Linked DNA regions of Homo sapiens: region 1 is linked to region 2. The links come from fine-mapping of genetic effects on gene expression. A gene starts in region 2. The other region holds a variant in brackets. All regions are shown on one strand. Distances are from middle to middle.

Region 1 (4,390 bases), 23 kb after region 2:
GTCCCACTTGGGGCATGTGGTTTGAGGTCATGGTGAAACACACCCAACTTCCAGTTAGAAAGCCTTTTTAGAAATTTTGGCTCAGAATTCAGAGTTAAACTGCATTTTCAGGGCTTTTCCACCGAGAAAAGGGGAAATGCATATTTATTTCATAGGGAAGTTGACAAAGCAACTTTGACTTGTATAGCTAGAGCCATGGTATTAAAATAACAGTGAACATAGAGAAAATGAAGTCATCAGATTGAAAACTAGCAATAATTATGTATTCGACACAAAACCTTGTTCCCATTCATGCCACCTCCTGCTCTCAGCATCTACTTTATCTTTCGGGCTCTGTTTCCTCTTGCCTGTGAGACTTGGACTTGGCCACTAAGAGAGAGAGCCCAGCTCATTTCTCTAAAAACGTGGATAGCAGAGGAGTGCCTCGCTCTGTCACCCAGGTTGGAGTGCAGTGGCATGATCTTGGGTCATTGCAGCCTCGACCTCCTGGGCTCAAGCAATCCTCCCACCTCAGCCTCCCAAGCAGCTACAGGTGTGTGCCACCATGCCTGGCTAATTTTAGTATTTTTGTAGGGATGGGTTTCACCATGTTGCCCAGGCTGGTCTTGAACTTCTGAGCTCAGTCAATCCACCTGCCTCAGCCTCCCAAAGTGCTGAGATTACAGGCATGAGCCACCACACCTGGCCTGTCAACTTTTATCTTTTGCCTGAGACTCCTCAGAGCAGAGGTGTCTTATCTCTATCATCCAGGTCCAGTTACATCTTTTTGGGTCTGGAATCCCATAATGGAAACAGAATCTGAAAAATTTCACTCAGACCTTTGTTAAATCTTCCAGTGCTTAATGGCAGTGGGGATAGAGAGGAATTAGAAGCCACCCCTTCCCAAATAATCATTGCTAATAATTTGGCCAGCCTGGGCAACATAACAAGACTCTATCTCTACAAAAAATTTAATTCAAATGTCTGATTTTAAAGATGGGAAACCTGTGATTGCTGCGTGTATATCTACTTAGTGGGGTAACTCATAGGTTTGGGGCACGTTCAGATTGATCTTTCTCTTTTCTGGTCCTTTTAAAGAAGTCAGCATTTTGATTTCCTTTCTATTTCTGCTTTTTCAAGGTTTCCATGTCAGAGGCCGATGGAGAACTGAAGATTGCCACCTACGCACAAAGGCCATTGAGACACTTCGTGTAGCTGGAAGACACCAACTTCCTGACAGGAGCTTTATTTCATTTGGGATTTCAAGTTTACAGATGGTATCTTCTCAAAAGTTGGAAAAACCTATAGGTAAGATTGGGTGTACATTTTAGTTATCCTTTTAGATTACTTCAAATTGAAATGATCTGATACATCCAGAGGAAAGGGCGGGTAAGAGACCGTGGTTTTCAGCACTTAGTTAGTTAGCTAGGAATAGCGGAGCTGCCCTGGTACGACTCAGATAACGCTTAGTAGGAGGAACACATTTCTACAGAATGACATGGAAGGGTCATAAGGAAAACATGTAACTAAAACATATTTATTTACTTTTTTTTTTTTTTTTTTTTCAGATAGAGTCTCCCTCTGTCGCCCAGGCTGGAGTGCAGTGGTGCAATCTCCGCTCACGGCAACCTCTGCCTCCCAGGTTCAAGCGATTCTCCTGCCTCAGCTTCCTGAGTAGCTGGGATTACAGGCGTGCACCACCACACCCAGCTAATTTTTGTTTTTAGTAGAGACGGGTTTCATCATGTTAGCCAGGCTGGCCTCAAACTCCTGACCTCAAGTGATCTGCCTGCCTTGGCCTCTCAAAGTGCTGGGATTACAGGCATGAGCCACTGCGCCTGGCCAGATCTATTTAATTATGAAATTAAAACAACTACTTCATAACAAAACAAGATAAAATACAGCAGAAGTATATGAAGCCCCTCTTTGCCTGGCTCCATACTAGGCAGCGGGGATAGAGAGGAATTAGACACTGTCCCTCCCCAAATAACCATTGCTAATAATTTGGCCAGCCTGGGCAACATAGCAAGACTGTCTCTACAAAGAATTTAAAAACTGGCCAAGCATGGTGGTACACGCCTGTAGTGCCAGCTACTTGGGAGGCTGAGGCAAGAGGATTGCTTGAACCCGGGAGGCGGAGGCTGCAGTGAGCCGAGATTGTGCCACTGCACTCCAGCCTGGATGACAGAGCGAGACCGTAGCTCAAAACATAATAATAATTTGAGATGT[G/A]TCTTTTCAGGTTTTTTTTAACGTATATATGATATATATGATGACATTTTGAAGTGTTCTGTGTTACACTGTCACCAGAGGTTTTGTCATGCCTGGGAGATTATGAATAATGCCTCATTTGCAGATTTGGGTCAGATGAGGGCTGAGTGAGAGTGGTTTTAGCCTGATCGGTGAGTTTTCATAGTCCCTGGTGGCTGTGTGTCACCCTTCTTCATCTGAAGGTCCCCGGTGGTGCCATTGTCTTTCCCTGCTCCCCGTCCCCAGCCAGCTCCACTTCCTGAATTTTCCCCCTGTTTGATGGTCCTACTGTTGTTATGGTGACCTGACTTTGGTTAATAAACATGTAATCATAAGTATATGAGGCCCTCCTCTTCCTGGCTGCATGCTAGGCAGTGGGGATACAGAGGAATTAAACACTGTCCCTTCCTTCAAGGAGGGCTGTGGTCTTTGCCCCCACCTTCTTCAGTCATTTGGTAGGACTAGAACCAGTTCTGCCTCGATGACTTCATTCCCTCACTCTGTTACACACCTCACCTCCTCTTCCTTGCTCTCCCTGCTCTCCCTGTCTCTGTTGTAGGCCTTTCTCACCCTGCCCCGGGCTGTTCCAGCAGCCTCTTTCAGCCCTCTTGCTCTAGCCTCCAGTTTGTTCTTCACATCACAGTCAGTTCCGTGGCCCCCAGGCACAGCTCCAGTCACACCCAGTCCCTCCCCATCACCTAGGCCAGTGGTTCGCAGCATACACTGCAGACCATGGGGGTCCCCAAAACTCCTTTAGGAATCTGCACAGTTAAAATGATTTTTGTAATCGTACTAAGATGCTGTCTGTTGCTGGAAAGCAACAATGAGTAAGACTGTTGGTGCCTTGGTCAAGGTGGTGATGCTGAACTGTGCCAGTAGCCACTATATTCTCCACTGCTATGTACTCCCAGGTTTTTGTTTTTGTTTTTATTTTGAGATAGAGTCTCACTTTGTCACCCAGGCTGGACTACAACAGCATGACCTCGGCTCACTGCAACCTCCGCCTCCCGGGTTCAAGTGATTCTCCTGCTTCAGTCTCCTGAGTAACTGAGATTAGAGACACCTGCCACCACAACCAGCTAATTTTTGTATTTTTAATAGAGACAGAGTTTTGCCATGTTGGCCAGGCTGGGCTCGAACTCCTGAACTCAGGTGGTCTGCCCACCTCAGCCTCGCAAAGTGCTGGGATTACAGGCATGAGCCATCACACCCAGCTTTTTTTTAATGCCATTTTCACACAAGAATGTCTTTGATGAAGTAGCAAAAATTGTCAGTTTTATTGAATTCCAACCCTGAGTACGGATCTCTTTAATATTCTGTGTAACAAAATAGAAATGCTCATAAAGTACTTCTGCGGCAAACCAAAGTATAGCACCTGACTCAAGGAAAAGCAAGGAAAAGCACATGTGGGATCCCTTGAATGGCAAGTGAAACTAGCCACTAGTTTCATTTTTACATGAAACAATGGCTGTGTTGGGTGCTGAGGCTGGAAGGTAGACAGGGGCTTGGGGTTGGAGAGCCTCGTGGGCTGCGTTTGTGCTTGGGGGCCTTGAGCGCAGCCCACCTTTGTCAGCTTTCTACACGCTGCTCCCCACTCCCATCCAGCCCTTTCCTCCTGCTTGCTCTTTCTTCAGCACACACTTCATTCTCCCCTTCCATGTCCTTCCTCTTGTTCCTTCCACCAGGAGATGCAGTGACAGCTCTGAAGGCTGCCTGTGATCCCAGAATCAGAACAGAGGTAGAAGATGGACTGGAGTTGTGACCTTTTGTCTCTAGGACTCTCAGGCCCCCAGTCCTGTCTGAGGCCTGTGGGGGATCCTTTGCTGGCACCCTAGCAGGCCTCACCTGCCAGTTTCATTGCAGCGGAGTGAAATGCTGCCACCTGCATGCTGCAGCCCAGCCTCCCCTCACACCAGACTCTTGGGGAAAGAATACCTTAGCCCCTTGCAGTATCGCTATGGACAGACGGTCCTTTGATTGAGCTGACTTTACAAGTGGCTCCTTTCATCCATCATGTGTTAAATCTGACTAGTGTCTGTTTGAGTGTACCCTTTCCTTGTCCCAGCATAATCATGATGCCACAAAACCAAATCTTCCCACTAATGGGTCAGACAGAAGAACGTAGCCTGTCCCTGACACCAGAACTGCCATGAAATAATGTAGG
Region 2 (4,390 bases):
TGGTTTCCCTACACCTTGACCATACCTGTAAATAATGTCTTCATTAAACATACCCATTCTGGGTGTTCCATGTGCTTCCTGCAAATACCCCGACTCTTACAAAGTCCGTCAGTCCACAACCACATTCTCACTTCTGGGTGACTGAGCTGTGACCTTGTGTATCTCTGTGTGTTGTCCCCTTTACTGACCTGTCAGCACCTGAGGTCGGCAACCAGGTCAGCTTTATCACCCAGTCCCCTGATCTGATATGAGTGGAGAGTTATACTCAATAAAAGATATTGATTAGGATATCAAATAAATAAAGAAGCATAGTTTAATTTGCTCCATAAGCAAGTGTTTGTTTATAGGGGATTCAGGGCAGAGAGTTAAGAGTCAGACATAAAAATACAGAGAACTTTAGACTGGGGCAAAAATTGGTGCTCAACAAAAGAACATACCCACAGTTCTATGAGCTGGGATTCTTTCTTTACTTTTATTTTAGGTTCAAGGGTACATGTGTAGGTTTGTTATATAAGTAAACTCTGTGTCATGGGGATTTGGTGTACAGATAATTTCATCACCGAGGTAAGCAGCATAGTACCTGATGGGTATTTTTGTCTCATCCTCCCTCCTCCCGCCCTCCACTCCCAAGCAGGCCCCAGTGTCTGCTGTTCCCCTCCTAGTATCTATGTATTCTCATTGTTTAGCTCCTACTTGTAAGTGAGAATATGCAGTATTTGGTTTTCTATTCCTGTGTTAGTCTGCTTAGGATAATGGCCTCCAGCTCCAGCCCATGTTGCTGCAAAGGATATGATCTGGGTTAAGGATCTAGCGTGTTCTCATGTCATCCAGCAACAGAAGGTCCAGACACAAGGGAGGTCCAGTGTGCCATGGTAAATGCCCACCTCTGGCCTCCAGCTCTCCCCTACCCGCATCTACTCACCTCCCACCCCTCCAGAGTGGCTTCTATGGCTAAGCTCTCTGCTTTGGGCTTCCTACCCTAGAAAGCCTCCAATCTTCCCTCCCATCCCAGACAGAGCAGCCAACTGGTCCCTGGGCCTGGGGGCCACGGTGTGCATTGAATGCTGGTGGGATATCTGTCTGTCCTCGAAGGAACCCAGGTGGTAGGGAGAGCAGATCAGATCTTGAGTGGTTTGGATTTGTCAGAAGGAAGGAGGGAGAGAAGGTATTCTAAAATGGAACAGCTGGGATAAGGGTCTGGAGATAAGAAATGGGGTGACTCTGGGTAAGGAGCAAGGAGAATCAGCCCAACCTGAGCCAGGCCCCCTCCCTGGTGAGGAGATGAAGTTTGTGATTTGAGCGCTCTTCTGGGGCTTGTCCCTCAGGGGTGAAGGACTCAGCTCATGATTCCCAAGGCGTTCATTTATTCCTTCACTCACCCATTCATTCATTCATCAAGTGGGTTTTGAGTTCCTGCTATGTGCCAGGAGCTGAGGATATGGGAGTGGATAGGACGGTCCCGATCCCTTATTGGGTCCCGGGACAAGTGTGACGCAGACGATTCTAGGAGGGCAAAGAAACCACCCTTATCTAGCAGCTCTTGTTTCTGCTCCAGAAGAAGCCGAGCGTTTTCCCATTTTACTGTCTGGGAACTTGAGGCTGCCTCCTTGGTGGAGGTCCAAGGAAGCACCGAGAGGGCGGGCAGCTCAGTTAGTCCTTTGTCCAAGGGGAAGCTGGGAGCCCCATATGGACTTTCCGGGAAGGTGGGGGCGAGTGCGTCTGTGTACTGGAGTGGAGGGGAGTCCCCTTTCTCCGCCCCTCCCCGCCCCGTGGCCGCGGCGTGGCGGGGCCGGGGCGGAGCTGGCGTCGCCCGGGGCAGGAGGGCAGCCGCGGCCGGCAGGACAGGCAGACGGACAGGCTGACAGGAGAGAGAACAGGCACTGCGGGACCTGCAGGAGAAAGGCGATCCTGTGGCTGGGAATGTGACCCCACGGCCAGAAGAGGACCCGTGAGTGTGCGCCGTGCCCCTGCGGCCTCGCCGCGCACCCCGCCCGCCTGGCTTCCACTTTCATTTCTTCGGCCGTCCTGGCGTGGCACAGTCCGGAGGAGAGTCCCGCCCGAAGGCAGGCTGGCCGCTGTCCTGAGGCTGGCGTCCGAGGCTCAGAGCTTCGAAAGTTGCGGGGGGGATTGTCGGGGTGGGGGAGTACGGGGCAGAGGGGAGGGGTTGGGGGGCGTGTTTTCGGGGAGCGGAAATGTCAGGCGGGCTCCTCTGGGTCCTACGACCTTCCTGGCCCTGGGAGCTGGTTTGAGGTTGCAGGGAAGCCGGGGGTGGGCGTGGGTGGCTGCGCGCCGCGAGGAGAGCGTGGAGTCTTCGCCTCTACTTTTTCTCTTCGACCTCTGTCCTAGAGAGAGTCCCAGGATGGATTCTGGGTTCAAACTGGGGCCATCCTCTGGCCCAGATCCTGGGCCAGGCCCAAGGAGTGGTAGATGTAGCCTAGCAGGGGGCTAAATATCAGAAACAGGTAGGGTCAGCCTGCTGTCTTCATTTGAGAAGCCCAGATCCGCACCCAGGGAACGAGCAAGGCACTGCCACTCCAGGAGTGAAAGGATAGCCATCACTGGGAAATGGGGGCTAGGACGGGGAACGGCAGTGGTTCAGGGAGAGACAGAGGTTCTGTGACAGATAGAAACTCAGTGAGGGCATGGGGGTGGGGAGTGAAGGGAGTTAACCCTGTGGCTAGAAGAGCACCTGCCCTGCACCCACCCCCTGAGCTTACATTTTCCTGGAAAGAGACCCAGGCCTTGAAGTTCCACAGGAGTAAGGTGGAACTCTAGCTCACTGGTCAGGACACCCCAGTTGCTGTGCGGAGTCAGTGTGTTGGGGACAGGAAGCAGGTTGGGCTGTTTGGTGGAGAAGATGCTTCCACTGTCCCTCCACTCCCCTCCTCTTCTCTGTCTCCACCAGACCATTGATGAGCCAGTGCAGGAAAATGGTCTTTTACTCTTGGTCATGAGCTGAGCCCCACCTTATCCCAGTTCCCAGTTCTGCTTGTAACTTGCTATGTGGACACAGGCTCCTCAAGTCCTCTTTTTAGGCCTCAGTTTCCTCATCTGGGCCTCAGTTTCCCCATCTGTACAAGTGAGTTGGGCCAGCTGATCTATCAGGGCTATTTTAACTCTAAGATTCTAGTCTAAGCTTTCCTTAAAGCCTGAACACTGACTTTGTGCCAGGCCTTGTCCTAAGCTGGGGGTGGGTTGGGGATGGAGTGGAGACTGCAATGACCAAAAGCAGCCTCTACCCAAGGAGAAGGAGATCTGAGTTCAGGAGAGGAGGCTGTGGGAGGAGGTAGCAGCCAATCTGAGGATGTGTGGTCAGGCAGGTGGAGGGATAAGAAAACATGCAGAGGCAAAAGAGTGGGGGCGTGTTCAGGAATCAGGAAGAAGCCCAGGGTGGTTGGTGTGGGGAGGTGGGAAGTGGGGCAGGAAAGGTAGGACAAGGTGCTGAATGCCAGGGTGGGGGCCTATTTCTAACTGTCATAAAGGGGGCCATGCAATGTGGGGAGCCCAGGAGCCCCGCCTAATTGCAGTGTGAGGGATTTTGGAAGCACTTGCCCCAAGCAGAGTTTAAAATGGAGATGGCAAATGAAGCGCAGAAATCTCTTTGCTCTGGAAACTGGGGTCCCACCCTGGGGACTTCTTTGGGTGAGAAGTCGAAGAGTCGGGATGGATGAGATGACCTTTCACATCTGTGAGTTTTTTTCAAGAGAACAAGTTCCTGCTGAATGGCCTGTTTCTACTCTCCAAGCTGCTCTCATTTTACCAGACTGCCCCCATCCTGGCCTGCCTTTGTGGGTTCAAGGAAGGACCTTTGTCTCAAACAGCTCCCCAGCTAGTTTGACTTCTTGCCAGAAGTAATACCCCTCCCCGAAATATGTGCCATCCCTTTGCTTTTACCCAGGTGTCACCTGGTTCCCACCCTCCCTTCCCCAATCCTGTCCCAGGGTTACCAGAGATGTGAGAAAGGACAGTGCTCCAGCGTCAGAGGTCAAGCCCAGGCTTTGGCCATAAGCAAGCCTCAGGGTAGGGCTAAAGGCTAGAGTCAGGGCTCACACTTGCCAGAGCCCAGGTCAGAGGTCAGCCAGGAACCAGAATGCAATTCTTAGCTTATACTCAGCCTTAGTGCTCAGTCTAGGGGCAGGGGCAGTGTGCTTAGTGGGTGGCTAAATTCTAGTTTTGGTAGGTACATGGGTCTGCATTTCCCAGTAGCTCACACACTCACAGTTGAGATGAGATGACTCAGGTCTTAGAAACCTAGCTATAGCAGAGTGACCCAGGACCTGGATGGGCTAAATCCATGGTGATACAGGGGTCACCCAGTAAGCCAGTGGTAGAGCTGGGACTAGAACCCAGGACTCCTGCCTCTGAGCCTAGGGCCCTGATCACTGTCTCC

Alleles and levels. Alleles are on the strand shown, and positions count from the first base shown. SD is a standard deviation of normalised expression in the study named.
With allele A in place of G in region 1, the expression in whole blood of the gene that starts at base 1,848 in region 2 is higher (small effect, 0.24 SD a copy in GTEx).

Evidence for each region. PIP is the estimated chance that this variant, and not a neighbour inherited with it, causes the effect.
Region 1: its variant is the best candidate, but not a certain one, in a credible set for the expression of MOB3C in whole blood (GTEx, PIP 0.57).

The regions. Positions count from the first base shown.
Region 1 is chr1:46,591,010-46,595,399 of GRCh38, reverse strand. It overlaps MKNK1 (MAPK interacting serine/threonine kinase 1), which reads left to right. Exons shown (of 13, transcript NM_001135553.4): 2 at 1,120-1,287. Among named protein-coding and RNA genes, the nearest start is that of MKNK1, 11 kb to the left of the region's middle. The variant G/A (reference allele first, on the strand shown) is at 2,209.
Region 2 is chr1:46,614,269-46,618,658 of GRCh38, reverse strand. MOB3C (MOB kinase activator 3C) reads left to right here and starts at 1,848. Exons shown (of 4, transcript NM_201403.3): 1 at 1,848-1,948. RefSeq lists a silencer at 1,674-1,953 and an enhancer at 2,354-2,423.